Linked DNA regions of Homo sapiens. The protein of the gene in region 2 purifies or fractionates together with the protein of the main gene of each other region. This does not show direct contact. Each region holds a gene or a part of one and is shown on either strand. Other genes may lie near its edges.

What was found.
Region 1: the proteins of EPS8L2 (region 2) and ABI1 purify together in Homo sapiens (affinity purification with western blotting; 2 studies listed by BioGRID, with this or other methods). This does not show direct contact.

What each region holds. Positions count from the first base shown.
Region 1 is NC_000010.11:26,770,459-26,773,958, reverse strand, and holds part of ABI1 (abl interactor 1), read left to right. Parts: intron 1-2,869; coding exon 2,870-2,884; intron 2,885-3,500. UniProt on the Homo sapiens protein: May act in negative regulation of cell growth and transformation by interacting with nonreceptor tyrosine kinases ABL1 and/or ABL2. May play a role in regulation of EGF-induced Erk pathway activation. Involved in cytoskeletal reorganization and EGFR signaling.
Region 2 is NC_000011.10:709,231-712,730, forward strand, and holds part of EPS8L2 (epidermal growth factor receptor kinase substrate 8-like protein 2), read left to right. Parts: intron 1-99; 5' UTR 100-177; coding exon 178-221; intron 222-322; coding exon 323-378; intron 379-1,191; coding exon 1,192-1,256; intron 1,257-3,500. UniProt on the Homo sapiens protein: Stimulates guanine exchange activity of SOS1. May play a role in membrane ruffling and remodeling of the actin cytoskeleton. In the cochlea, is required for stereocilia maintenance in adult hair cells.

The DNA.
Region 1 (3,500 bases), on a different chromosome or scaffold from region 2:
TGATCTAGGAGTTGTTAGATTTTATTATTGGTCTTAAAAGATAAGCTTAGATGTGTTACTTTTTTTGGAGTTTTAGTTTACAGTGATTCATGAATCGGGCAGCTTCAGACCACAGGAGACATGAAGCAGGTAGAAGTTCAAGAAAGCAAGACAAGCAAAATATTTGATTGGTTAGAAGTTAATTGTGGTTTCTGATTAGTAAAGTTCCTAGTTAGAGGTTAGTTGGAGGTTTCTGATTAAGTTTCTTTTAATTGTGTTTTGGTTTGCCTAAGTAGGAACCCAGAATGCTGGAGCCGTCTCAGCCTAATGGTCTCAGCCTAATGGCTTTCTGATTAATTTTTTTAAAACAGTGTAGAAACTAAAGCTTTATAATGTTTACATAGGAAGATTTTTTTTTAATTTTTATTTTATAAAGCAGAGGAGTGAGTTAAGAATCATTTCAAAGAAAGAATTGGCCTTGGCTGGGTGCAGTGGCTCATGCCTGTAATCTTGGCACTTTGGTAGGCTCAGGTGGGAGGATCACTTGAGGCCAGGAGTTCGAGACCAGCCTGGCCAACATGGTGAAACCCCGTCTCCTAAAAATACAAAATTTAGCCAAGCATGGTGGCACACAGTTTTAATCCCAGCTACTTGGGAGGCTGAGGCAGGAGACTCGCTTGAACCCGGGAGGCAGAGGTTGCAGTGAGCCAAGATTGAGCCACTGCACTCCATCCTGGGCAACAGAGCCAGCAAAAAAAAAAAAAGAATTAGCATTAGACATTTAGTGCCTATGACATACAAAACTATGATGTACTTAGAAGATAGGGAGGAATCAAAGGGAATTTCAAACAGATTCCAGGCAAATGGTAAAATTACTCATCCATAAAGGTAAATGTTAAGGAAACAAAGTGAGATTTTTTTAAAAAGAGACAGGGTCTCACTGAAGTGCAATAGCTCAATCACAGCTCACAACTTTCTAGGCTCAAGTGATCCTCCCTCCTCAGCCATCCAAGTAGCTGGGACTACAGGTGTGCGCCACTATGCCTGGCTAATTTTTTATTTTTTTTTTTCAAGAGAAGGGGTTTCGCCTTGTTGCCCAGGCTGGTCTCAAACTCTTGGGCTCAAGCAGTCCACCTGCCTTGGCCTCCCAAAGTGTTGGGAGTTACAGGTGTGAGCCACCGTGCCTAGCCTGAAATGAGATCTTAAGGAAATAAAAAAGTTTCATTTTGGATATATTTTGGGGATATTTAAATAAAAAATTTTATAGATTTCTAACAAAAATATTAGTATTTTGAGGTGTAAGATGTAGAGGTTATTTCCTACTAACACTTGCCAACATTGACACATCTGCATGTCTAATAACACTTAATAGAGGAGGCCGAACTTCATAAGAGGTTAAAGCTTATACCATTGCATAGTAGCACAGAGTTCAAGTAGAATTTTCATTCCCAATCTAATTCTTCTTTTATTCTTTCCATTTGGGACCAGCTTATACTTGAATGCTAATTTTTTTGTTTCTTATCCACTTGAAATGACAAATGAAGGAAGATATGTGGACATATTTAGAATATTTTCTTGGTTATTTTAGGATAGTATTTAGTATTATGTATATACATTATAAGATATACATTGCTATGTAAGTATATACTATACATGTATAGTATATATCATAATACAGATACTGAAGTATACATTAGTGTATTTTATCTTCAAGGATCCTAATAATGTTATACTCAAAATTTATTCTCTAGATGTGAAATGTCATGGTTAGGTAGGGTACCAGATGTTGTTTCCAGATAGAAGTAAGCAGTATCATTTTAAACAAATATTGAAGTGTACCAAATTTCTCGCACAGTTTCTATAAATGAGAATGTATCCAAAAGACACCAAATCTCTCCTTTGGATGATTTCCTTTGATACTGCCTTGTGGCCACCTGAAAAATGGTAGTTACTTGTTGAGAATGTCAGATGTTATTTAAAAAAAAAAAAAGCTTGAAGCCCCCAAATCTGTAAAAAATTAGACTCTAAAACCTGAAGATATTTTTTTTTAGTGGCATTGTACAAGTAGTGATGCTTTAGGACTACACATTGTTTCATGTTGTGTAGGCTAGTCAGCTTTAATAGAAGTAGCCTTTAGGATCAAAACAACTTTTCTTCAACTTTGAATTTTGACTTAACTGGCTCAGATGAAAACTTAGAACTAAAGCTACTTAGAACTTCCTATTAGTGTTGGCCTGCACAGGATTGGGGTTCAGAAGCTAGGAATGAGAGAGTTTTCCAGACCCTGTTTGTTTATTTCTTAGTTAGAATCTGGCTAAGTTATCACTGTGCATGATGAATTTGTTTTTAAACATCGAGATACTAGGTCCTTTTTTCATTTTTGGAAGCAATCTGTGGTTTTGAATTTTAATGTTTGCAGTTTATCACTTTTTAAACTATACTACCATTGAAGTAATGAATACTCATACTTGGACATTCATTATCCAGTAAAGTGTTAGGTCTCATGCACCGATATGTTAAAATAGCTTCACATCTAATGTGTTATGGTGTTTGTATTTAAATGAGCGTATTTTTAAAATCATCTGTTACTCGGTTGGATTAGTTCCATAGGACAAAATACTGACTTAAAAAATCATTGAGCCTGCATGAGATTGGAATAATTAAGTGGTGGTTTCCTTATGAATATAATTCTTTTGAAAAATACATGAAACACATGAGTATTTCCCCAGTACGTATGGATCTCTTTTTCTTTACAAAGTAGTTGAAACATGGCTGGAAAAAAGCTTATTAACATGAATTGAGTAACTGTAAATGTAAACCTGTCCTATCGGATATAACTTACCTAGCATTAATGTCTACTTTTTCCCCCCCTTTTTTTGCCAACGTAAAGTGGCTAAAAGCCAAGGTAAGAGCCATTACTTATCATTTGATCCACAGTATTTCCTCTGTATTGATAGAGGCTGCAGAGCCACTAAAATTTGAAAACTCTTCTTATGTCTGTCTGCTTTTCCCTGTAGGATTTATGTAGATTATTTAATACTCAAGTTCAGTTCAAATAAGCAACATTTAGCTTGGCTGTGTTAATATATCAATGATATATTGACATCTGTGTTTATATAGGAACATTAATTTTGCTAACATTTATTGCTTTGCTCATTTTTCGATAGTTGCCTTGCTTTCATTGACTTACAATTAGGAGGTTTCCCAGACATCATATGTGACTTTGTTACTGAATTGTTAGGATGAAGATGATTTTTCAGATGCGTATTTGAGCAAATTGACAAGTAAGATCTATAGTTTGTGTTCATGCACACATTTCAAAAATTTTAGGAAACCCAGTGTTTGAATGCAGATAAGTTTGATCTCAGTGAACATGTTTAACAATAAAATAAGATATTAAATCCAGTCATCTCACCTGTATTTGGCTACAATGTGATATAAATGGCATAAAATAATAGGAAGACCAAGTGCAAGTGGTTCCTTGACTTTTTAAACTGTAGTACCAAAGTCTTTATTCAAAC
Region 2 (3,500 bases):
CCCACCCAGGCCAGGCCAGTCAGGGATCTGGCCCAGGGAAGGAGGGGAGGAACCAGCCAGGCCGGAGGAAGTGTCAGCGCAGCCCTTCTGTCCACCCAGGTGTGGGACAGGCACTGGCCTCAGACCGGGGCCACACTGAGGTCTGCCCTTCTCCCGCTGGCCGCCACCCAAGACACCATGAGCCAGTCCGGGGCCGTGAGCTGCTGCCCGGGTGCCACCAAGTGAGCCCTCCCACCCATCCCGAATACCCCACCCTCACCCTCTGAACAGTCCCCAGGGAGGGGTGCAGTTTGGCCCTGCCCTGACAGCCCCTCCCCTGCAGTGGCAGCCTGGGCCGGTCCGACGGTGTGGCCAAGATGAGCCCCAAGGACCTGTTTGGTGAGTGAGGTTTGAGAACGGGCTGGACGTCACAGGGGAGAAATGGGCACTGCATCCAGGTGGGGGACAGCTGCTCCTGCCCCACAGCTGTGCCTGGTCTGGCCCAGGGGATCTCCGGGTGCCCAGGGAGGCCTCTGGACCCTAATCAACCTTCCGAAAGCTCCTGGCCACTGGATCCCCTCCCCCACACCCGTAAGGGGAGAGGCCTTTACTAATAATTCAGGGAGCATCAATATTGATTCCGCTGCACTCATTGCTGTAACCTGATCACAGCGAGGTTCAGGCAGGATAAGCCGCCAGGTGTCTGCTCCAGGAGGGGGGCCTGGCCAGCCCCCACCTCCCCCCACTCTGCCCTTCCCCAGAGACGACCCTGCCCTCTCGCTAGCTAGATGCACCCTTCACTTATGTCTTTGGACAAGGTGCCTAGTCTGGAAAGCGAGAAGACCTGGGAGGGCAGGGAGAGTGAAGCTGGCAGCTCTCAGAGTGGGAAGAAGCCGGGCTGGGACCCCCTTCCTGTCCCCTCACCCTCCGGGACAGAAACCCCCCGGGCACAGGCTGCTGGTCCCCACTCCACTCAGAGCAAGCCCATCGCCTTCTCCGAGCTGCGTCCTTCTCCAAGGGGGCTTCCCTGGAGGGAGGGAGGGGGCTTCCTGCAGGTCCTGATTTCACACCCACATCCTTCCTGGTGGCCAAGAGGTCCACGGAGCAGCCTCCCTCCGCTTGACTCCACCTTCCCTTGTGGGTCCAGTCCCAACTGGACGGGAGGCTGTGGGTCCTGCCCGTCGGGGGAGTGACTGGTGTCTCCCGGTTCAGAGCAGAGGAAGAAGTATTCCAACTCCAACGTCATCATGCACGAGACCTCGCAGTACCACGTCCAGGTAAGGCCCCGCCCCCAGGTAGGCTCCGCCCCCAGGGAGCACCCTCAGGACATGGCTGTCCTCAGGTTCTCGTCTCCACAAAAAATAAAATAATTAGACGGGCATGGTGGTGCCGGCCTGTAGGCCCTGCTACTGGGGAGGCTGAGGCGAGGGGGTCACTTGAGCCCGGGAGGCGGAGGCTGTAGTGAGCCAAGATCGCACCACTGCACTCCAGCCTGGGCACCTGGGTGACAGAGCTAGACCCTGTCTCAAAACGAAAGAGAGAAAGAGAGAAAGAGAGAAAGGGAGGAAGGGAGGAAGGGAGGAAAGCTCCAGGGAGAGTGGTCAGCCCAGCTTCTGACACCCACGGGGCCGGGGGAGGCCAGAGCCAGAACTGCCCACACTGTCCCGGGCTCAGCCACGGGGCCGGGGAAAGCGCCCCTCTGGTTCCAGTCCTGGGAACTCGCGGCCTGGGGGGTGAGGCAGCCCAGGGTGTGCCGGGAAAACACTGTGGCTGCTGCCCAGCCCTGGATGGGAAGAGCCCCTGGAGGAGATGATCATCCTGGCCCCAAAACGAGGAACTGTATCGGGAGGGAGCAGGCAGAACAAAGACGCCCTTGATGGGGGATTCAGGGAGGCCCGGGCTGCTTCTCAGGGCTCAGACGGGGCTGCCTGCACGCGCCGGACCAGCCGCCAGCCCTGAGGGCTTTTCTGTTCTCCTAGGTCAGTTTCATTGACACGGAGAACTCAGGAAATGTTTTTTTGGGGGGTTTTGTGTGCGTGTGTGCGTGTGTGCGTGCGTGCGTGTGTGTGTGTGTGTGTGTGTCTTTTTTTCTTCCTTTCTTTCTCTCTCTCTCTGTCTCTCTCTTTTCTTTTCTTTCTTTCATTTTGAGACAGGGTCTAGCTCTGTCACCCAGGTGCCCAGGCTGGAGTGCAGTGGTGCGATCTTGGCTCACTACAGCCTCCGCCTCCTGGACTCAAGTGATCCCCTCACCTCAGCCTCCCCAGTAGCTGGGCCTACAGGCTGGCCCCACCATGCCCATCTAATTATTTTATTTTTTTGTGGAGATGGAAGTCTCCCTATGTTGCCCAGGCTGGTCTCAAACTCCTAGGCTCAAGCAATCCTCCCCCCTCCTAGCCAGGCCTGGTAGTGTGAGCTCGTAGTCCAGCTACTTGGGAGGCTCAGGCAGGAGGATCCCACCACGGCCCTCCAGCAGCCTGGGCAACAGAGTCTTAGGCCAGGCGCGGTGGCTCACGCCTGTAATCCCAGCACTTTGGGAGGCTGAGGTGAGTGGATCATCTGAGGTTAGGAGTTTGAGACCAGCCTGACCAACATGGCAAAACCTCATGTCTACTGAAAATACAAAATTAGCCAGGCGTCGTGGTGCATACCTATAATCCCAGCTACTCGGGAGGCTGAGGCAGGAGAATCACTGGAACCCAGGAGGCGGAGGTTGCAGTGAGCCGAGATCACACCACTGCACTCCAGCATGGGCAACAGAGCGAGACTCCATCTCAAAAAAGAGAAAAAAAAAAGGGACCAGGCGCGGTTGTTCATACCTGTAATCCCAGCACTTTGGGAGGCCGAGGCGGGTGGATCACCTGACGTCAGGAGTTCGAGACCAGCCTGACCAACATGGTGAAACCCCATCTCTACTAAAACTACAAAACTTAGCTGGACGTGGTGGTGGGAGCCTGTAGTCCCAGCTACTTGGGAAGCTGAGACAGGAGAATCACTAGAACCCGGGAAATGGAGGTTGCAGTGAGCCGGGATTGCGCCACTGCACTCCAGCCTGGGGGACAGGGCGAGACTCCATCTCAAAAGGAAAAAAAAAAAGGCCCCTGCGCCTGGGTACGAGCTGGGCTCCCGGTTGTGGTCCAAGCCTGGGTGCGAGCTGGGCTCCCGGTTGTGGTCCAAGCCTGGGTGCGAGCTGGGCTCCCGGTTGTCGTCCAAGCCTGGGTGCGAGCTGGGCTCCCGGTTGTCGTCCAAGCCTGGGTGCGAGCTGGGCTCCCGGTTGTCGTCCAAGCCTGGGTGCGAGCTGGGCTTCCGGTTGTGGTCCAAGCCTACAGGACTAGGAAAAGGAGGGAGGGTGAGGGAGCCTGGAGCTGGGTCCTCCTGCAGGACCAGTCCTTTCTGCCACAAACAGCCCTGGCTGGGGGCCCAAAATGCCCCCTGGTTCCCCCTTGCTGTCCTCCACACCTGCAGAGGTGAGACAGGTCACTACTCTTTGAGCCTCAGTTTCCTCGTCTGTACAATGGGTCCAA